Linked DNA regions of Homo sapiens: region 1 is linked to region 2. Evidence: fine-mapped expression QTL. A gene starts in region 2. The other region holds a variant in brackets. All regions are shown on one strand. Distances are between the middles of the regions.

Region 1 (11,778 bases), 28 kb before region 2:
CACCATCTTTGTCCATGTATGAAAAAACTCCTAAATATTACATTTGTGAATTGATTTGGAGAGAAGTTATAGCTTTATAATAATGAATCTTATGAGAAGACGTATTCATATTTTTTATGTCCTTCAGTAGAATTCCATAGTTTTAATTCCTATAAGACCTTGTATATTTCATGTATAAAGATTTATTTCTGAGTAATTCTTAAATTGACACATTATAATTATACTTATTCATGGGGTACAATGCTATGTTTTGATACATATATATACGTTGTGTAATGATCAAACCAAGGTGATTAGCATATCAATCACTCAAACATTATTTATTTATAGTGAGAACATTAAAAATCTTCTCTTCTAGCTATTTTGAAATACAGTCATGCATCACATAATGACTGGGATATATTCTGAGAAATGCAACATTAGGCAATCGTTGTTGTGTGAACATCATAGAGTGTGCTTACACAAACCTAGATGGTATAGCCTACTACATACATAGGCTATATGGTTTAGCCTATTGCTCCTAGGCGACAAACCTGCTCAGCATATCACTGTACTGAGTGCTGCAGGCAGTTGGAACACAATGGTAAGTATTTGTATATCTAAACATAGAAAAAGTACAGTAAAAATACAGTGTAAAATATAAGAAATGATACAGGTGTATAGAGCATTTATCATAAATGGAGCTTGCAGGACTGCAAGTTTTTCTGGATGAGTCAGTGAGTGACTGATGAGTGAATGTGAAGGCCTAGGACATTACCGTACACAACTGTAGATTTTTTGTTGTTGTTGTTATTTGTTGTTGTTGGGTTTGTTGTTTTTTTGCTTTTTTTTTTTTTGAGACGGAGTCTCACTCTGTCACTGAGGCTGGAGTGCAGTGGCACCCTGTCGGCTCACTGCAACCTCCGTCTCCTGGGTTCAAGCAATTCTCTTGCCTCAGCCTCCTGAATAGCTGGGATTACAGGAGCCCACCACCATGCCCGGCTAGTTTTTATATTTTTTACTAGAGATGGGGTTTCACCATGTTGGCCAGGCTGGTCTCAAACTCCTGACCTCAGGTAATCCACCCGATTCGGCCTCCCAAAGTGCTGGGATTACAGGCATGAGCCACCGCACCCGGTGATTTTATAAAACACTGTACACAGGCTACACTTAATTTATAAACAATGTTTTAGCTGGGCACAGTGGCTCACATCTGTAATGCCAGCACTTGAGGAGGCTGAGGCGGTGGGATCACTTAAGGCCAGTAGTTGGAATCAAGCATGGACAACATAGCGAGACCCCATCTCTACCAAAAAAAAAAAAAAAAAAAAAAAAAAAAATATATATATATATATATATATTAGTTGGGTGTGGTGATGCACACTGTAGTCCTAGGTATCAGGAAACTGAGGATTGCTTGAGCCCAGGAGTTAGAGTTTGCAGTGAGCTCTGATCACACCACTGCACTCCAGCCTGGACAACAGAGCAAGACGCTGCCTCTAAATAAATGAATAAATAAATAAAAATAATATGTTTAGCTGGGCATGGTGGCTCACGCCTGTAATCCCAGCACTTTGGGAGACTGACGCAGGTGGATCACCTCAGGTTGGGAGTTCGAGATCAGCCTGACCAACATGGAGAAACCCCATCTCTATTGAAAATACAAAATTAGCCAGGCGTGGTGGTGCATGCCTATAATTCCAGTTACTTGGAAGGCTGAGGCAGGAGAATCACTTGAACCTGGGAGGCAGAGGTTGCAGTGAGCCGAGATCGCACCTTTGTACTCCAGCCTGGGCAACAAGAGCAAAACTCTGTCTCAAAAATAATAATATTGTTTTTATTTCTTCAATAAGAAATTAACCTTAGCTTACTGTAACTTTTTTTTTTTTTTTTTGAGATGGAGTCTCGCTCTGTTGCCCAGGCTAGAGTGCAGTGGCTCAATCTCAGTTCACTGCAACCTCTGCCTCCCAGGTTCAAGTGATTCTCCTGCCTCAGCCTCCCGAGTAGCTGGGATCACAGGTGCTCACCACCATGCCTGGCTAATTTTTTTTTTTTTTTTTTTTTTTGTATTTTTAGTACAGATAGGGTTTCACTGTGTTGGCTAGGCTAGTCTCGAACTCCTGGCCTCAAGTGATCTGCCCGCCTTGGCCTCCCAAAGTGCTGGGATTACAGGCATGAGCCACTGCGCCCGGCCAACTTTTTTAATGTTAAAAACTTTTCAATATTTTTTTAACTTTTTGACTTTTTTGTAATAACAGCTGGAAACACACATTGTATAGTAGTATAAAAATATTTTCTTTCTTTATTTCATTATTCTATAAGCTTTCTATAAGCTTTTTTCTATCTTTAAATTTTTAAATCTTTTTTACACATTTTTGTTAAAAATGAAGACACAAACACATACATTAGCCTAGGCCTACCCAGAGTCAATATCACTGTCTTCCACCTCCACATCTTGTCCCACTGGAAAGTCTTCAGGGGCAGTAACACACATGGAGCCACCATTTCGTATGACAACAGTGCCTTCTTTCTAGAATACCTCCTTAAGGACCTGTCTGAGGCTGTTTTATAGTTATTTTTTTTTTTTTTTTTTTTTTTTTAGTTGGAGTTTCGCTCTTGTTGCCCAGGCCAGAGTGCAATGGCACAATCTCGGCTCACCGCAACCTCCACCTCCTGGGTTCAAGCGATTCTTCTGCCTCAGCCTTCCGAGTAGCTGGGATTAGAGGCGTGCATCACCACGCCCAGCTAATGTTGTATTTTTAGTAGAGACAGGGTTTCTCCATGTTGGTCAGGCTGGTCTCGAACTCCCTACCTTAGGTGATCCGCCTGCCTCGGCCTCCCAAAGTGCTGGGATTACAGGCGTGAGCCACCGCGCCCAGCCTACAGTTAGCTTTTTTTTAATAAGTAGAAGGGGTATATCTTAAATAACTATAAAAAGTATAGTAAACACATAAACCAGTAATATTGTCATTTACTATCATTATTATGTACTATACATAAGTGTATGTGTTATGCGTGTGTATGGCTGGTGGCTCAGTAGGTTTGTTTACACTAGTATCACCACAAACTTGAATGCCTTGTGCTACCACATTATGACTGCTGGGATATCACTAGGCAATAGGAATTTTTCAGCCCTATTATAATCTTATGGGACCACCATTGTATATAGAGTCAATCATTGATGAAATGTTATGCATTGCATGACTGTATATATTATTGTTAACTATAGTTAACCTGCTGTGCAATAGAACACCAGAGCTTATTCTCCTACATAATTGTAACTTGGTACTCATTTACCAACTTATTCCCATCCTCCCCTCAGCCCCCCACCCCCCTCTCCAGTCTCTGGTAACTACTGTTCTGCTCTCTACTTCCATGAGATCAGCTTTTTTTATTTATTTATTTATTATTATTATTATTATTCTTTTGAGAATAACAAGTTCACTCTTGTTACCCAGGCTGGAGTGCCATGGTGTGATCTCAGCTCACTGCAACCTCCACCTTCCAGGTTCAAGCGATTCTCTTGCCTCTTCCTCCCAGGTAGCTGGGATTACAGGTGCCCACCACCACACCTGGCTAATTTTATATGTTTAGTAGAGACGGGGTTTCACCATGTTGGTCAGGCTGGTCTCAAACTCCTGGCCTCAAGTGATCCACCTACCTCGGCCTCCCAAAGTGCTGGGATTACAGGCGTGAGCCACCGCACCTGGCCGAGATCAACTTTTTTAGATTCCACATATGAGTGAGATCATGCAGTGTCATTCTGTGTCTGATGTGTCACTTAACATAATGTTCTCCAGGTTCATTCACATTGTAACAAATGACAGGATTTCATGCTTTTTTATGGCTGAATAGTATTCCATTGTGTGATATACCATATTTTCTTTATACATTCATTCATTATTGGACACTTAGGTTGATTCCATATTTTGGCTATTGTGAATAGTGCTGCAGTAAACATGGGAGTGCTGATAGCTATCTCTTCGACATACTGTTTTCATTTCTTTTGGCTATATACCCTGTAGTGAGATTGCTGAATCATATGGTAGTTCTATTTTTAATTTCCTGGGTAATTTATAGTTTTTGTTGCTATGATGCATTTCTCTTTAACACCCTTCCTGTTTATATTAAATAATATAAAAGCCATTTATTTTTGTATACTTAACATGTAATCAACTACCTACCAACAATTCTTAACTGTTTATAAATCACATCCCCACAACAATTTTCAAGCAACATTGTGTTACCTGGATTCATTACTTTATACAGAGCAATAATCATCATCATCATCCTCATTACATATAGTCTAAAATAGAGGTCAGCTGGGCATGGTGGCTCACGCCTATAGTCCTAGCACTTTGGGAGGTCGAGGCAGGATTGCTTGAGGCCAGGAGTTTGAGACCAGCCTAGACAACATAGTGAGACTCTTGTCTCTACAAAAAAAAATTTTTTTAAATTAGCCAAGCATGGTGGCACGTGCCTGTTCTAACTACTCAGGGGGCTGAGGCAGGAGGATCACTTGAGCCCAGGAGTTCAAGGCTGCAGTGACCTGATTGTGCCCTGTACTGCAGCCTGCGTAACAGATCGAGACTCTGTCTCTAAACTAAAAAACAAACTAAAAAAATAGATTTTATGGCATTTCATAAAGCTCTCCCACTTCTGTAACCTCCAACATGATATTATTTACAGAGTAGACATTTACTTTTTTGTTTTCAATACTTACAATGGTTTGTTGACCTTAAAAAATCATAAATTTTAATAGCTGAGAGGAACCTTAAAGAACTTGTCCAACTTCCTCATTTTTTCCAATGTTTTTTATGGTGGTGAAATATACATAACATAAAGTTTACCATCTAAAACATTTTTAAGTGTATAGTTCAGTGGTAGTAAGTAGACTTGCACAACCATCACCATCCATCTCCAGAACTCTCTTCATCTTGTGTGTCTGAACCTCTGTAAGCATACAGTAGCTTCCTACTGCCTCTTCCCTGATCCCTGGCACCCACCATTCCACTTTCCGTCTTTACGAATTTAACTACTCTAGGTATTTCATATAAGTAGTATCATACAGCATTTATCTTTTTGTGACTGGCTTATTTAACTTAGCGTAATATCCTCAAGTTTCATCCATGTTGTAGCGTGTGTCAGAATTTCCTTTCTGCTTAATTTTTTTTTTTTTTTTTGAGACTGAGTCTCACTGTATCGCTGAGGCTGGAGTGCAGTTGC[G/A]CAATTTTGGCTCGTTCCAACCTCTACCTCCCAGGTTCAAGTGATTCTTCTGCCTCAGCCGCCAAAGTAGCTGGGACTACAGGCATGTGCCACCATGCCCGGCTAATTTTTTTATATTTTTATTAGAGATGGGATTTCACCATGTTGGCCAGGCTGGTCTCAAACTCCTGACCTAAGGTGAGCCGCCCGCCTTGGCTTCCCAAAGTATTGGGATTACAGATGTGAGCCACTGCACCCAGCCCATTCCTGCTTAATGTTAAATGATATTCTATTACGGTATGTATATACCATGTTTTGTTTATCCGTTTGTCTATCAGTGGACACTTGGGTCACGTCCATCTTTTGGCTATTGTGAATTTGCTACTGTGAACATGGGCGTACCAATATCTCGAGATCCCACTTTCATTTCTTCTGAATATGTGCCCCGAAGTGGAATGGCTGGATCCCCTGTTAAGTGATATCAATTATCATATGATAATTAATTTTTTAAGGAACGGCCAAATTGTTTTCCATAGCAGCTGCACCATTTTACCTCCCTGCCAACCGTGTACAAGGTTCCAATTTCTCCACATCCTCACTAATACTTACTATTTTCTGTGATTTTGATAGTAGCTATCCTAATGGGTATGAGATGGTATTTCATTGCGCCAGTCTCCTCATTTTACAGAGTAAGAAACTGAGGGGAGAAATGGCTTGTTTACATGCAGAAGCTGACCAGTTTGCTAAATGACTGTTCAGTTATTGTCCAATTCTCGAAAGAGTCAGCTTATTTAATGACAGATTTCACTGAATTGATTCACTCAAACTTTGCCAGGTTTTCCTCATTGATATTCACTAGACTGCTTCACAAAAATCTTGTCTTTATTATCTACTTAACAAATACTTACAGGAAATTGTATTATTGGCTGGGCACAGTGGCTCATGCCTTAATCCAGCACTTTGGGAGGCCGAGGCGGGCAGATCCCTTGAGTCCAGGAGTTCAAGACCAGCCTGGACAACATCTCTACAAAACCCATCTCTACCAAAAAGACAAAAATTAGCCAGATGTGGTAGTGTGCACCTGTAGTCCCAGCTACTAGGGAGGCTGAGGTGAGAGGATTGCTTGAGCCCGGGGGAGGTTGAGGCTGCAGTTAGCTGTGAGTGTGACACTGCACCCCAGTCTGGGTGACAGAGTGAGACCCTGTCTCAAAACAAAACAAAAAACAACTTTTTTATGTTTGAAAATCATCATAATAAATGTTGGAGAAGACCCTGAATTTTAGACCTAGCTCTATTATTTAATAGTGTGTTCTTAGAAAAAGCCCTTAATCCCTCTGTAATAGAAATCAAATAACCTGCCTTATCGGCTTTAAAGCAGATGTTCTAAGGACCAAATAATATACTCTATAGGAATGTAATTTGAAAACCGTACCATTAATGAACGAGATAAGATAGTGCCATTATTTCCCCTCTTGGTGATTTCAGTATTAGTAACGTATTATGTTTTGTGATTTTTTTTTTTTTTTAGTGGAGCAGTCAGAGAAGGAAGAGTTCAGATTAGTTTGAAGAAGGGAATGGAATGTTCTACTTAGCTCCCTCAATGAGAAAAAAAAAACCTCCCACACAACTACTAGCTCTTCTACAAGTAGACAGGCAGGGTCTAAGTTCACTTTGGAAGCCATTATGTATATCTTTATAAAGAAGAAGACAGAAAGAAAAGCTTAAACATAAACATAAATCAAATTTTGTTCTTTTTCAGGAGGCAGTAGGGGACACATTAGAAGAACTGTGGATCTCCTACAATTTTATTGAGAAGTTGAAAGGGATCCACATAATGAAGAAATTGAAGATTCTCTACATGTCTAATAACCTGGTAAAAGACTGGGGTAAGCTGAGAGTGGCCCTTTGCTAACCTTCTACCGCCTGTTTATAGAAAATAGTCCGAGAGGGAAAAGATGCAAAACGAGAACGTTTATTTCTAAGCACAGAGAGAAAGTGGAAACATTTATGGCTAAGCTCAGAGAGAAACAGCAATAGGAGTTTCTAAATTTTAAATGCTTAACATTTATATTTAAATATTTACTTAGGATGGACCGGGCGCGGTGGCTCACGCCTGTAATCCCAGAACTTTGGGAGGCCGAGGCGGGTGGATCACGAGGTCAGGAGATCGAGACCATCCTGGCTAACACGGTGAAACCCCGTCTCTACTAAAAATACAAAAAAATTAGCCGGGCGTCGTGGCGGGCGCCTGTAGTCCCAGCTACTCGGGAGGCTGAGGCAGGAAAATGGCGTGAACCCGGGAGGCGGAGCTTGCAGTGAGCCGAGATCGCGCCGCTGCACTCCAGCCAGGGCAGCAGAGCAAGACTCCGTCTCAAATACCTAACGTTAAATGACGACTTAATGGGCACAGCATACCAACATGGCACATGTATACATACGTAACAAACCTGCACGTTGTACACATATGCCCTAAAACTTAAAGTATAATAAAAATAAAAAATAAAAAAGTGAAAGAACTTGAAAAAAAAAATTAGGATGAACGTAATCTGATAGGTCCTGGTCCTATTAATCATGAAAAAAATTTAAGCTATTATCCAAAGGCTGAAGTAATCAGTTTAAATTTAATACTTCAAAGGTAGAAGACTTATTTGATATCTATGTTACTTTGCTTTTTTATTGTATATAATTCATTCAGTTATATGCGATGAACTATACCAGTCTCTTTGGATACATAGTTGAATAGGACATTATCCCTGCCCTCAAGAAGTTCACAGCTTAGTGGGGAAAATTAGTTTGTAAGCTGATAATTATAAAACTGTGTGATAAGAGGCCAGGTGCAGTGGCTCTTGCTGGTAATCCCAACAATTAGGGAGGCCAAGGCGGGCAGATCACCTGAGGTCAGGAGTTTGAGACTAGCCTGGCCAACATAGCAAAACCCAAATTTTTTTTTGTAAAAATACAAAAATACAAAAACATAGCCAGGTGTGGTGGTACATGCCTGTAGTCCAAGCTACTTGGGAGGCTGAGGCATGAGAGTTGCTTTAACCCAGGAGACAGAGGTTGCAGCGAGTGGAGATGAAGCCATTGCACTCCAGCCTGGGTGACAGAAGGAGACTCTTTCTCAAAACAAAAAAAAGCAAAACTGTGTGATAAGTTCTGCAATACAGATTTGAATGTGTTGTTTTAAGAATTCAAAGATGAGGGAATGGGTACAGACAAAGGCAGGTTAGCTTAACCTACACTGATGCAGCACAGCATGAAGAAGACCTGTCACTGGAGAGTGATTTGTTCTTTTTGACTTTGAATCTCATCTCGTCTTATTTCATCCTTATGCTAGCATTTAAAGTAGAGAGGTATGTCTTCTTTTTCCCTCCCATCCTGTACTGTCTTCTGAGAATGACTTTATATGGTATAACTTTCCTAGCTTCCTTCAAAATCTTAAACAACTGATTGTCATGAATAGTCACAAACTGAGGGTTAATGATATTGGAATTTAATCCCCAAAATTGTAACAGTAAAACTTGCTGTTTTTTTTTTTTTTTTTTTTTTTTTGAGACAGAGTCGTGCTCTGTCGCTCAGTCTGGAGTGCATTGGTGCAATCTCTGCTCACTGCAACCTCCGTCTCCCGGGTTCAAGCAGTTCTCCTGCCTCAGCCTCCTGAGTAGCTGGGACTACAGGTGCCCACCACTATGCCTGGCTTATTTTTGTATTTTTAGTAGAGATGGGGTTTCACTGTGTTAGCCAGGATGGTCTCGATCTCCTGATGTCGTGATCCGCCCGCCTTGTCCCCCCAAAGTTCTGGGATTACAGGCGTGGACCACCGCACCCGGCCAAAACTTAGTGTTTTAATATGGAAAATATTCTTTTACTTGTAGCTGAGTTTGTGAAGCTGGCAGAACTGCCATGCCTCGAAGACCTGGTGTTTGTAGGCAATCCCTTGGAAGAGAAACATTCTGCTGAGAATAACTGGATTGAAGAAGCAACCAAGAGAGTGCCCAAACTGAAAAAGCTGGATGGTGAGTGATTCTGAGCTGGCTTAGACATATCTTCTAGGCATAAAAATGGAATTTGTGGCATGGAATCATGAAGAGGAGAAAAACTAAAGAAAAAATACCTCTGATCTTCCAGGTCATTTCTATCTATGTAAAATTGAATGGTCTAGGTTTGAGCCAAGGTGAGATGAAAAACTGCTAGGATATTTAGACTGGTACAAGATTCTCCCTAGACCAAAAGCTTATAAGAAAGCTAGGCCTGGCCGGGCATGGGTGGCTCACGCCTGTAATCCTAGCACTTTGGGAGGCTGAGGCGGGTGGATCACCGAAGGTCAGGAGTCTGAGACCAGCCTGGCCAACATGGTGAAACCCCATCTCTACTAAAAATATAAAAATTAGCCAGGCGTGGTGGCGGGCACCTGTAATCCCAGCTACTCGGGAGGCTGAGGCAGGAGAATCACTTGAACTCGGCAGGCGGAGGTTGCAGTGAGCTGAGATTGTGCCATTGCACTCCAGCCTGGGCAAAAAAGAGTGAAATTCCGTCTCAAAAAAAAAAAAAAGAAAAGAAAAGAAAGCTAGGCCTTATAAATCTACATGGAGCCAGTCACAGTGGCACGTTTCTGTAGTCAAGCTATTCAATGAGGCAAGAAGATTGCTTGAGGTCAGGAGTTTGAGACCAGCCTTTGCAATATAGTGAGAAAAACCCTGTATTTATTTTTAAAAAATTGTATATTTATTTTTTCCTGATATAAATTTCCTTCTGCTATGTTGGATTAAAGCTGGAATTATTCAGGGTTTGGTGCTGAGCCTCCTCCTTTTCTCACTCTTCCCTGTATCACAAGGAGGACACCCATGCAAGCAGTAAGAGAGAAGGAGCCTGGCCAGGTGCGGTGGCTCATGCCTGTAATCCTAGCACTTGGGGAGGCCAAGGCGGGCAGATCACCTGAGGTTGGGAGTTCGAGACCAGCCTGACCAACATGGAGAAACCCCATCTCTACTAAAAATACAAAATTAGCCGGATGTGGTGGTGCATGCCTGTAACCCCATCTACTCGGGAGGCTGAGGCAGGAGAATCGCTTGAATCCGGGAGGCGGAGGTTGTGGTGAGCCATGATTGTGCCACTACACTCCAGCCTAGGCAACAAGAGCGAAACTCCGTCTCAAAAAAAAAAAAAAGAGAAGGATCCTGACTTCCAGACAACATAAAGTTCCATGTCTATCTACTATCTACTTGTACTTTTATGTAAAAGAAAAATAAACTTCTAGCTCATTTAAGCAAGTTTAAAAAATAAAGAAAGTTAGGCTTATTCTCAAGTCAGAAAGGTAACACAAAGGTCACAAATTTTGATCAGAATCAAAAATTATTCTGATTCTGCAGAATAATTAGAAATACATGGTAAGCAGTTGCTTTTTTACAATTGGATCAAAATTGTGGTATTCTCTCTGTTTCTCCCCTCATCCCCAGTCTTAGTTTCCCAATATCTTAAGATCAGTGTCAGCATCAGTAGATAACCCTAATTAACTGAGTCAAGTCCCAGCTCCTCCACTTAATAGTTTGTGAAATTGTGCTAATTAATTAATCTCACCAAACCTTGTTCATTGGTAATCTAAAAACTGGAGATGATAATAGTATCATTAGTAATCATTTCAGAACATATATCAGAGTATTATTATGAGGATTAAATAAAATAATCTATGTGAAACAATGAACACATAGAGATAATCTACGCTAAACGTTGTGCTTAACATAAAGTAAGTATTCAAAATATATGTTATTAGCTGGGTGTGGTGGCTCACACCTGTAATCCTAGCACTTTGGGAGGCCGAGGTGGGAGGATCACTTGAGGTCAGGAGTTCGAGACCAGCCTGGCCAACATGGTGAAATCCTGTCTCTAGTAAAAATACAAAATTAGCTGGACCTGGTGGTGGGTGCCTGTAATCTCAGTTACTCAGGAGGCTAAGGCAGGAGAATTGCTTGAACCTGGGAGGCGGTGGTTGCAGTGAGCCAAGATGATGCCACTGCACTCCAGCCTGGGCAACAGAGTGAGACTCTGTCTCAGAAACAAAATAAAGAGTTATAATTATTTTAGATTTTAACTCAATCCCAAAATGCAAGTGTATAAGAAATATTTCAATATAAATCGACCTCATTTTGACTTTGAACACTACCTCCCCAATTCAATTCAGCTGGGCTGTTAAGAAATTCAGTCTGTCATTCTTTTTTTTAGAGTCTGGCTCTGTTGCCCAGGCTGGAATACAATGGCGCAATCTTGGCTCACTGCAACCTCCGCCTCCCGGGTTCAAGCGATTCTCCTGCCTCAGCCTCCCAAGTAGCTGGAACTACAGGCGTGCGCCACCCCCCCCCCCCAGCTAATTTTTGTATTTTTAGTAGAGATGGGGTTTCACCATGTTGGCCAGGATGGTTTTGACCTCTTGACCTCGTGATCCGCCCGCCTTGGCCTCCTAAAGTGCTGGGATTATAGGCGGTGAGCCACTGTGCCCAGACTTTTTTTTTTTTTTTTTTTGAGACAGAGCCTTGCTCTGTCACCCAGGCTAGAGTGCAGTGGCACCATCTCAACTCACTGCAAGCTCCGCCTCCCAAG
Region 2 (11,778 bases):
TAATCAGATGTCCTAGGTCCTCCCAATTCTTAGACCTTTTATACCTGTTTTTCTCCTTCTCTTATTCCATTTAGTTTCTCAATTCATCCAAAACCATATGCAGTCCATCACCAATCATTCTATACGACAAATGTTTCTTCTAACATCCCCACAATATCACCCCTTACCACAAGACCTCCCTTCAGCTTAATCTCTCCCACTCTAGGTTCCCACGCCGCCCCTAATCCCGCTTGAAGCAGCCCTGAGAAACATCGCCCATTCTCTCTCCATTCCACCCCCCAAAAATTTTCGCCGCCCCAACACTTCAACACTATTTTGTTTTATTTTTCTTATTATAAGAAGGCAGGAATGTCAGGCCTCTGAGCCCAAGCCAAGCCATCGCATCCCCTGTGACTTGCACGTATACATCCAGATGGCCTGAAGTAACTGAAGATCCACAAAAGAAATAAAAATAGCCTTAACTGATGACATTCCATCATTGTGATTTGTTCCTGCCCCACCCTAACTGATCAATGTACTTTGTAATCTCCCCCACCCTTAAGAAGGTTATTTGTAATTCTCCCCACCCTTGAGAATGTACTTTGTGAGATCCACCCCTGCCCGCAAAACATTGCTCTTAACTTCAGCGCCTATCCCAAAATCTATAAGAACTAATGATAATCCACCACCCTTTGCTGACTCTCTTTTCGGACTCAGCCCGCCTGCACCCAGGTGAAATAAACAGCCACGTTACTCACACAAAGCCTGTTTGGTGCTCTCTTCACACGGACGTGCATGAAAATAACTTCCCTCCTAAGAATGCAGCCAACTCTGCATCTATGAAAAGAAGGTCTATCCCCCCATGTTTAAACTGTAGAAGGATGTCCATAACATATTGGGCCAAAAAAAAAAAAACCCCAAGCATACACCAAAAAAACAAAACAAACAACCCCCCCGCCCCCCCCGAATAATCCTTATATACCTAGTTTGTTTTTTTGGTGCATCTGTGTGCGTGGTTTTTTGTTTTGTTTTGTTTTTTTCGAGACAGGGTCTTGTTCCGTCACCCCAGGTTGGAGTGCGGTGGCATGTTCATAGATCACTGCAACCTTGAACTCCTGGGCTCAAGCAATCCTCCTGCATCAGCCTCCTAAATAGCCTGGCTAATTTTTAAATTTACTTATTTTTGTGGAGACAAGGTCTTGGTATTTTGCTCAGGCTGGTCTTGAACTCCTGTCCTTAAGTGATCCTCCCACCTCAGCATCCCAAAGTGCTGGGATTACAGGTGTGAGCCACTACAACGGGCCCATTTTTAAAAATGTAGTATGTGGGCCAGTTGTGGTGGCTTACGCCTGTAATCCCAGCATTTTTGGAGTACTTTCAAACCACGAGGTCAGGAGTTTGAGACCAGCCCGGCCAACATGGTGAAACCTTGTCTCTACTAAAAATACAAAAATTAGCCGGGCGTAGTGGCACACACCTGTAATCCCAGCTACTTGGGAGGCTGAGGCAGGAGGATCACTTGAGCCCAACAGACAGAGGTTGCAGTGAGCTGAGATTACGCTACTGCACTCCAGCCTGGGCAACACAGCGAGACTCCGTCTCAAAAAAAAAAATGCAGTATGTGTGTATATGTGTGGAGTGGGAGTGTGTATACATATGTGGTGGCTGGTTGGTGTTTGGTGGTGGGAGTGTGTGTGGGTGTGAGGAGAAATGGGAATATATGTTGGGGGTGGGAGACTGACATCGTGTACATGTGGAGCAGGAGGAGGGTGTATGTTATGATGGGAGTACTGACGGGGAGATGACAGTGTGTCAAGAGTGTAAGAGGGGTGAGTGTGCACCTGATGCTGGTGGGAATGGAGGGGAAAGTTCTGTGAATGATGGGTAGCAGGTGAAGACATGCCAAGTGTTTGTGGTAAGTGAAGCTGAGCATATCTGTTGGGAACCAAGGCAAGTATGTGGAGATGTTTTTGTGACAGGAGGAAAGGGATGTACTGACATGAAGCGAATACGTGTACCGAAAAATCTGGAAGAACATACATTACCCCTTATAGACTTGTCGAATGGCTCAGCTATAATTTTAAAACCTTATTAGGGAAAGGCTCACTGAACACAATATTCATGTAATAACTTTAGATTCACTGAGGATCTCAAAAGATGGACATCTTCAATCACTGAATCTTTGCAGCAAAATAAACATGTTTTAAAGTTGTATTTCCCTTTTTATATCGTCCTGCTATAAAATGGTTGCTGTAAAATAGCCTTCATTTTACACAGGTGTGATGAATTATAGCTATTTCTTCAGTGAAACAAAATGTTTAGCTGAAAAGTGATCTTAAGAGAAAAACACTGCCAGATAACCTCCTGAACCCCATTTCAAGATTTTCTAAAAAAAAATTTTTTGAGAAACAGGGTCTCACTCTATCACCAGGCTGGAGTGCGGTGGGACGATCATGGCTTACTGCAGCCTCAACCTGCTGAGCTCAAGCGATGTCCCACCTTAGCCGCTGGGTGGCCACCTTAGTGCTGGGACCACAGGCGTGTGCCACCATGCCTGGCTAATTTTTAAAAGTTTGGGTGGAGATTGGGTCTATGTTGCCCAAGCTGGTCTCAAAATCTTGGCTTCAGGCAATCCTCCCTAAGTGCTGGGATTACAAGTGTGAGCCAAATCTGGTATCTAAATTTTTTTTTTTTTTTTTTTGAGATGGAGTCTCACTCTGTTGCCCAGGCTGCAGTGCAATGGCGCAATCTCGGCTCACTGCAACTTCCGCCTCCCAAAGCGATTCTCCTGACTCAGCTTCCCAAGTAGCGGGAATTACAGGCACGCACCACCACACCCGGCTAATTTTTGTATTTTTAGTAGAGACGGCGAGGTGGCTCACGCCTGTAATCCCAGCACTTTGGGAGGCCGAGGTGGGTGGATCACTTGAGGTGAGGAGTTCCAGACCAGCCTGACCAACATGGTGAAACCCGTCTCTACTAAAAAAATACAAAATTAGCTAGGCGTGGTGGCGCATGTCTGTAATCCCAGCTACTCAGGAGGCTGAAGCAGGAGAATCACTTGAACCCGGGAGGCAGAGGTTGCAGTGAGCCGAGATCGCTCCATTGCACTCCAGGCTGGGCAACAGAGCAAGACCCTCTCTGCCCGATAAAAATAAAAAATTTTAAAAATTAAAAAACAAAACAAAAAACTGTTAAGATGACAGCAAGAGGGGAAGGAAAAAAAGGACCTGCCATTTAAATTCACATAGTATCATACAAAGCTTAAAATAAATGGTTTGATTTAATGACAAAGTCTTCATAAGAAAAAAGGACAGTTTACTTAGGCTAAAAATGTTTATACATGCCAGAAAAATGAGAAGACAACAGAATTTTTAAAATATTTTAATTTGTATATATAACTTCAAATTTAGAACACTCAGTATGAACAAGAACTATTCTCTGACAAAGATGTGAAATGGGGGAGTGAATTACTGTACAGGTGCATATCAACCTCTCCATGCAATTTACATCTGTATCTTATGCAATGAGAAACTGGTTTACACAGCTCCGTAACTGCAGTATTTTTTAACACCCCATTTTGCAGTCTCAGAATACTTTTCAATTAAACTGGTCGACATGTTTAAAGATGAGAAATAAGATGTTTGCATTGTAAAGTTGAGTAATAGCTAATAAATGCACACTTCCTTCCATTAATATAAATCTGGAACAATTTATGGTAAACAAAAATCTATCCGCGTTATCAGTAATCTAACAGTGCATACTTTTACTGAACACTTCCTGTGAGCCAGGCCTCGTAGTAAACATCTGAACATGCAATTTCACATTCAGTGTGGAATAAGAAGTGTCATAGGTTCGCGTGTTTTTCACAACTGATTATGATGTCCATGATGACAGCGTGCACTAAGCGCTGTGTCCAACCAACCCTTTACCTGGCATTTTAGCCAGCAAGACCCGCTTGCATTGCAGTCGTTCACGGTGCTCGCTGGCACAATTTTAGAATGTTACATGAATACTCAGGCCTGACTAACCTTCCCCTCCAAAAAACAACAAAACAGAACAAGGCTAAGCCTTTACTACTCAGAGACACATCTGTAAGACCCCACAGGGACAAGAAAAGTAGCTGTGATCTAGGTCTGCACTAAAGCTGCCTTTCCTGGCACTCAGAAGTGCCCTTCCAGGCCTAACTGCAGAAGGGTGGCCTCAGCCTCCTCCTCCTCCTCCTTGGCTTCCTCCTCACGGATCTGCACCAGCAACTGAAAGAGGTTTGGGGCTGGCCCTTCCCCAGCCCCGGTAAGCCACAGCTGCCTTCGGATGGCCCCGCTGTGGTTGGCCCCGGCAATGACCTGCTCTAGGCGGGCCTGGTTCACATTATCTTTATCAATGGCCCCCTTCTCTACCACCTTCTGTAGCAGAGGCTCCAGACGAATGACATAAGCAGACAATTTTTCTCCCGGGTTCTGATAAGTGTTCAGAAATTTGATCTGGGCATCCCTAGAGCTCTCAACGCTCCCAAACACCTGCTCAAGCGCCTTCAGGCATTCGGCAGTGGTTATCGCGGGGTTGTTGGACTTAAGGATGCGAATAACATCAGCGGCGGGGCCTCTAAGACTCTCCATCAACCGCCGCCTCTTTTCTACATCGGACACCTGCCACTCCTCTAGGACCTCATTAGTGTGCTCCAGCCAGGGATCAAAGGTTTCCTCTCCAGGCCCTGGGATGTCCCTCCCCGAGAAAAGTGTCAGCCTCTTGTACCATATGGACTCAACAAGAGGCTGAATAACATTATCCAAAATATAGTTTAGCATCTCTGCTGGCATCTCTGGGCCCGGGGTCGGAGTAGGGTTCTGAAACCCAAGGACACGGGCAACATCTTGCACGGTCCACCCCTCTCTAGCTAGGAAGAGGTGCAATCTTTCTAAAAATTCAGCATCAGAAGTTGGGGGCTTAAATAACACTTTCCAGACCCCTCCTTTGCCCGGCATCTCCCTGGGGATCGCGGCGTAATCTACAGCGCCAGTGAGCTCTAATAAGGCTGCTTTCGCATTTTCTTCCCTCCAGAACATTCTCCCAAGCATTCGGTAGGAGACCTGGGGCATCGCAGCCTGGAGGGTCTCTTCGATTTCAGCCTCATCACAGTTCACTGGGATGCCCCAGACTAACAGAGCTCTCTGGGAGTTCACATCCATCCCCCGGCACCAGTCTTCCAACAGTGTCATCGCCATTTTCTCAACTATCAAGACGCCAAATTCTACCAACAGACTGTGGCTCACCGTGCTCCTGGCCTTAGAACAATACCAGACACTCCCACCAAGTAGGCCCGAGGGAGGCGACCTTCATGCAGTCACGATTAACAAAGACAGAGTCCTGATCTCGCCCTTCTCTGCCCCCACAGTCAGTCCGTAGGTGCACTCGGAGCCGAGCTCGGGGACGCTGAGGCAGTCACGCGGCCGTCGCCATCTTGCGTCTGGGTCTGGGTCCGGTCGGGTCCGCCGCCTGCAGCAGGGGCGTCGCGTCGTCGTGCAGCGGGCGAGGAGCGACGGCGGGCGGCGAAGGCAGGCGCGCTGGGCCGAGAGCCGCCGGGGTGTGGTCGCGGGGCGTGGCCGCCGGGCGCTCGCTGCGGCTCCTGGAGAGGATCGGGCGTTCGCGGTCGCAGCCTGGTCTTCCCGCGGGCGAGGAGCGGCCGTTTGGGAGACTAGCCAGAGGGAGAAACTGTGCCGAAGTCGCGGCGGCTGCGGGCCAGCGGAAAGCGGCTTCTTGGCGGGCGCGGGGACTCCTCTGGGCGGGCGGCGAGGACGGCCGAGGACCAGAAACGAAGGCAGCAGAGGAGCAGGAAAGTCGGAGAAGCGAGGCTGGAGACAGCAGAGGCGAGGGTGGGAAGGGGCGGCCGCGGCGGCCCGCAGCGGTTCAGGCGCTGCGCGGCTGCTCTGGCGTCCAGTCCTACCCGCAACCCGCCGCGACGTTACTGCTGCAGTGGAGGATGGGGCCAGCCGGCGAGCGGCGTCCGCCCCGCCCCGCCCCGTCCCGCCCCCGCGGCGGAGCTGCTCGGGCGTCTCCATGGCAACGGTGTCCCAGCCGGCGCGAGGCACGCCTGCTCCGGCGGCTCGCGGGGGTCGAGCGGTTGCCGTGGAGCCAGCGAGGGGCTCGGGCATTTGTTTCTCTGATGGCGCATTTCCTTTTTCATAATTTAGCATTTTAACAGTAAACAACTACTACTAAGCACCGTGTTTTAAAAATAATAACCCAATCCTGGAGTGGATTTAAGATGATATTGTTGGAAATGCATCCCTCATGGTGGACTTGTCTACTCGGGTTGCTCAGCCAGTCCACCCTGCACGTGAAAATACTCTCCTCAGAACCCTGGCTTCCCGTTGCCCCTGACCACACTGTGCACCCTGCATATTTCATCCCAATGAAGCCAAAATGTCGGAGTGCGCCATTTCTGTGTATTTGTGTGAGACACTGAGTTTAGACTTTTTCTTGTCTAAAATTTTGTAAAAATCTGTCTGTGTCTACTGAGTCATCTTTTAGCCAGGCAAACATTAGTGTATTATTTTCCTTTTCCTGGCTGGCATCATTGACAATAGGCTGCTAAAAGAGAATCCTTATGGTTCAAAAATGTCGAGTAATCTCCCTGCAAGCAAGACAAGGCGCACTTACATCAACCCCAGATGGTGAAAATCCCAAGAGAACAAAGCATTCAACTCTGAATTTTTAAAACCTTATTTAATAAAAGGTTTAAAGATACAGAAGAACATTCAAAAGTAAATAAGTTACATAGGTACATTACAATCACATCAGCAAGATTCTTTAGTGTATTAATTTTTTTCTTATAAAAAGCACACAAAAAATAAAATCTTCAGTCTCTATCACAACTGTACAGCAAAAGAGGTAATATTTATATATGTACACTATTTTAATATGTAACAGTCTTTTTAAAAAAGGATGCCACAGGCAGCAAACACACAAAAGGCAGTGTCTGATCATTTTTGTTTCAAAATAAAAGGAATATACTTATTTATATGCTATTAAAATATCTGTACAATAATTACAGACTGTCAAGGCTGTTCCTGTGCTCTGTCCCCTCCAACAAAGCCTTCAACTTAGAGACAAATGAGGAAAAAGTGAAACAGCTGCAAATTGTTAGAAGCAAATATTAACATAGCAAAATGTGGGGAGGACACAATTGTTTTATAAAAATATCCCTACTTCCTGTAAACCTATGGAGTTAGGCTTGCCAGTCTGATAATAAATACCGTCCCAGAAAAGCGAGCCCCAGTGAAAACAACTAAACAGGCTGAGGCTTGAGTATGTGTTGTATTCCTCCTTCATCTTAACATCTGGCACATGAGAAGAAAGAGGTTAGGTCACTGAGGCAGTTAAATATAGGTGATCCCTTTAGACATAAGCAGCAGAAGACCTTGGTGCCAGGGGTGGAGGCGCGGCAGAAGGGGTGGTATGTACCTTAGCTGTGAGGGGGGCTGCTGAAGGCATGGAGGACAGTAATGACGGCTGTGCCTCCTTGGATGGTGGAGACCTCAGAAATGGTCTGCAACACAGGCACTAGGTCAGTTTCCCGCCCTTAGCTGAATGCAGATGGATGCTGGGAGATGGATATGGTGAGATGGTGTGGGGAGGATGTTAGAAAGCTGGAGGTGTTTATCACTTCTCAAGGAGCTCTGAATATAGGGGGAAAAAAACAACAAAAAGACAAGCCCAGGGAGAAAGCACCATTAAGGATATACCTATGCCAGCTTCTATAGCTGCACCTGCTTTATTGGCAGGTCACTTGCCACAATTGCATCTGCCCTCTAAACTTTTTAATTTTCACACTGTATCCTAGACATGAATGCATAAAATACAGTGTCTGGCGGGATAATGCAGAGAGGTACCATCTTGATTTTCCCCAGTTACATTCACCTGGTCTGGTCTCTGTAAGCTTAGAAGAGTAGAATCACTTTATTTTTTAAAGACTTCCGGCCAGGCACGGTGGTTCACGCCTGTAATGCCAGCACTTTGGGAGGCCGAGGCGGGTGGACCACCTGAGGTCAGGAGTTCAAGACCAGCCTGGCCGACATGGCGAAACCCTGTCTCTACTAAAAAAAAAAATACAAAAAGATTAGCTGGGTGTGGTGGTGTGTGCCTATAATCCCAGCTACTCAGGAGGCTGAGGCAGGAGAATTCTTTTAACCCAAGAGGCGGAGGTTGCAGTGAGCCAAGATCACACCACTGCACTCCAGCCTGGGCGACAGAATGAGACTCTGTCTCAAAAAAAAAAAAAAAAAAAAAAAAAAATTTTTTTTCCAAGTACAAGATGTTACCACTGACAAAAGGGTCTCATATGAATGATGGAGGTTTCTGTTACCGTATGCCCATAAAGGGGCCTGAAACCAAATATGATTTGAATAGAAAAGACCTTGGGAAACATAAGTAGCACTTTGGGGCTAAGCTGCGAAGGCACTCGTATTGTACAAGTAATTTCGAAGAGAGCCTAAATTTGCTACCCCCCTGCTTCTACAGGGTATACCAGATTTTTGCTGTCTTGGGACACTGAGCTCATGGAAGCCTGTGGAGGAAACTAACCGGTAAGCTGGGGATCTAGGTAGTCATCCAAGAGTCTGGAGGGAGAAGAAATTTGTTACTTCCACAGCTGGGGTCCTGTAGAACCATACTAATGTACAAATGGATGCTGAAAAATACCTGCATAGTTTCAAAACAAAACTCCCTCTCCACTCCCAGTTACTGACATGATGCTTCTTGGCTATCTCATAAGGAGTAGCAGTATGAATACTTTCTGGCTCCTTCCTAATACGTTGACCTGTCATACGCGCATTCACTTAGAATTTCTTTTGCACAACTAAAGTTGAATAAGATCAGAAAAATAGCTGAGCCCCGCTATGGGACTGGAAGTGAAGGGGCCTCCAGAACCTCCTGGCCCTTTCACTTCACCCATGCCAAATATGGCTTCTTCAAGCCAGAATCCAGGCCCCATAAACCAAACTAGAATTCTGGCCTCTTGCCAACTCTTCCCTCAGGCAAAGCACAGCCAGAGAAGGGGCAGCAAGAACTGCCTTAATCTCCCTTGCTCTGTGTGGGTCTGGTGACACCCTCCACCTTCCCACGCTCTTTCAGTGTTGCTATCATTCCTATCAGCAAGAGCTTCCAGAGCAACCAGGTGAGGGACCTTAGGGCCTTGGGAATTTAGGGGGTGGGGATAGGGGATGTCAAGATGCCTCGTTTTGGGATAAATGCACTCGGGCCTCTGAAAAGCAGGAGGCCCCTGGTCCCTGAGAGGATGTTAAAAATTAAATACTAAGAATAAATAAATAGCTCCCAAATGACACGAGTCAAGGAATGAAGGCTCCTGTCCAATCGAGTTAGGAGACCTCTCCCTCCCAGGGAAGGATCCAGAAATCTCCAAAGTGCAGGCCTGGGGGCTGGGTTGTGGATATCGACACTGGGTAGGGTGCGGTGGGGTTAGGTGTAGCTGCTGAGGTCAGAGCAGAGGCAAGGAGGCTGGCCCCAGGAGGGGCAGGCTGAGCCTCTCCGGGACCTGCTCAAGGCGAAGCGCCCTTGGCAGCCTCCAGGACCCAAAGGTATTCAGCCAAAAAGGTGGGAAGCAGGAAGAGCCAGGCTTGTCAAAAGCTCTCTCGGGCCTAACCCTGCAGCTTCCAGCCTCCGTACAGCTCCCTTCCCTGCAGCAGGATGAGTGCTTTGGACAAGAACGCTAGCCCCTCCCCCAACGCTGAGAAAACTTTCTAGCCCTAGCAAGGCCGCCAGCAAGCAGCAAAGGGAGAGTACCTGCCGCGGCCTCCCTCCCAAGGAGGAGGTGGCCACTCAGGACACGGTCACGGGAGCAGCTCAGACAGGCCTAGAGACTGCAGGGACAGCACAGGTGTCAGGCTGCGCCCCTTCTCAGAGAAGCCCGCAGACTCCCTCCAAGAGTTTCTTTTTCTGGGGCTTGGGGCAGGGCCGTTGCAGCCTTCGAGGTCCTCTGGGGAGGAGAAATGCTGCTCCAAAGTGGGTGAGCTTGTGCTTGGCCGGCCACGGTGGCTTCCTGGAGGCCGAGGGGAGGAGGGGGAAGCAAATAAAGGGAAAAGACTGCGGGGCAGCAGAGCAGCAGAAATCGGAGTGTGAGAGGCGGTGGAGTCCCTCCCGAGGGGACCGGGACTCTCCCGGTCCAGGAAAGCACGAGGACAGCTTCCGACAGACCAAATGCAAAGAGAGCTGGATCCTGGAGCCCTTAACGCTGCTCCCAGGGCCTTCATAAATAAAAGAGCCGTTTATGTCATTGTCTCATTTGTTTCGCAGGGAAAAGTCCCTGCAATCCTCTCCTCACTCCCTCTTGAGATGCCAGGGTGTCTGCGGGCGCTGGCGGCGGTGCGGGAAGGGCCGAGGCCCAGGACTGGGCCAGCCTGGCTCCCGCGCTCAGCCCTTGTCGCCCGCACCGCTCTCCTCCCGCAGGGCCTGCTGGTGGGCGGCGGCGGCGGCAGCAGCGGCCTCTTTCTCCTTCAGCCTCAGCGCTGCAGCCTTCTTCTCCTGCTCTGCGTGGCTCTTCATATGCGCACTGCGGCTCTTCACCTTGTAAAACACCCTGCAGCCGGGTGGGGGTTGCTCAGAACCGGCCTAGCCCACCCGGGGGCCCCCAGCGCGGGTGCGCGAGGAGCCCCAGCCTTCACCTTCACCCCCACGCTGCACAGCCGCGGCCGGCCAGCTCGCGTCATTTTCCGAAAGCTGCCCCATGACGTCACAGCCCTAGAAACCCGCTGAGCCAACCAGAAACGAGGCGGACACCGCCTGTACCTCTTCCCCCTCCCCTCCACCCCACCCCCGCCCCCTCCGCGCACCAGCCCGCGGGGGTCCCAGCGGGGACAGCGCTGCCCACCTTACCTGCCACATTTTTTACAGGGGAAAGTGTTCTCCTGATTCTGGGTCTTACTGAATGTCTCTGTTTTTTTCTTCTTCTCTGAAAAAGGTAGTGCCCTTCGTGACTTCCCTGTCCCTTCCCTTGGCTTCTCCGAGGCCTGGCCACCGGCAGACCCAGGGGCGTTGGACTCGTGGCTCCGGAGGATGAGGATGTCACTGGCCTGAAGAAAATCAAACAAGGAGAGTTGAGTGATCTGAGCAAGCGCAGATCTGGAATTCTAAAATCGCAGGGAACCGGGGGCCTGAAAAGTCATATATATTCCTGCCAAACAGTCACCTAGCATGCACTTGGGTCCTTCCAGGGATATGACGACCATTGCCTCCTCCAACTCTGCATCTCTGGTCAGCTCTATCGTTTACAAAGTTGCTGCTAGAGTAATTCTGTGGGGCAGCCCGAGCTGCTAGAGGCCTTGATGCGCCTGACAGGGGATCTTGGTCTCTGGGTTAATGAAGCACCTACCTGTTGATGTTTTCTGTCATTTAGTCCGCTCATGCCCTGTTCTATAAATGAGATTCAGGCCCCTGTGATGGGCCAGATGCTAGGGACAAAGAGGTTGACACAGGCATCCCTGCCCTCAGAGCTGAGGATCTGGTGGAAGGGACAGATGCGCAGGTAGCTACTTCAGGACAGCGCACTGCAGGGACACCAAACAGGGCAAGGGCAGGGGTCAGAGTGCAGAGCAGAGGGAGCAGAGGTGACCTCGGCTGGGGAAGCCCCGGGTGGCCATCAGAAGTGGCACCCTCATGGGAAAGTTCACAAAAGTCAACAGAACTCTGTAGAGCGCTACACAGAGCACAGCTCTTGGTGCAGGTGGTCGAGGCTCAGAAGTGGGCACACAGCCGTGTGTTTACAGTTTATGGGAGCTCTGTAAG

Evidence for each region.
Region 1: its variant is fine-mapped to the expression of PNMA1 in whole blood (TOPMed, PIP 0.97).

The regions. Positions count from the first base shown.
Region 1 is chr14:73,680,316-73,692,093 of GRCh38, forward strand. It overlaps DNAL1 (dynein axonemal light chain 1), which reads left to right. Exons shown (of 8, transcript NM_031427.4): 6 at 6,944-7,070; 7 at 9,060-9,200. Among named protein-coding and RNA genes, the nearest start is that of PNMA1, 28 kb to the right of the region's middle. RefSeq lists an enhancer at 5,213-5,382. The variant G/A (reference allele first, on the strand shown) is at 5,206.
Region 2 is chr14:73,708,436-73,720,213 of GRCh38, forward strand. PNMA1 (PNMA family member 1) reads right to left here and starts at 5,949. Exons shown (of 1, transcript NM_006029.5): 1 at 3,348-5,949. The coding sequence starts at 5,204. The coding sequence ends at 4,143. MIDEAS (mitotic deacetylase associated SANT domain protein) reads right to left here. Exons shown (of 13, transcript NM_001367710.1): 12 at 10,870-11,066; 13 at 6,687-10,573. The coding sequence ends at 10,408. RefSeq lists enhancers at 5,345-5,404, 6,345-6,414, 10,380-10,990 and silencers at 5,495-5,664, 5,845-6,124.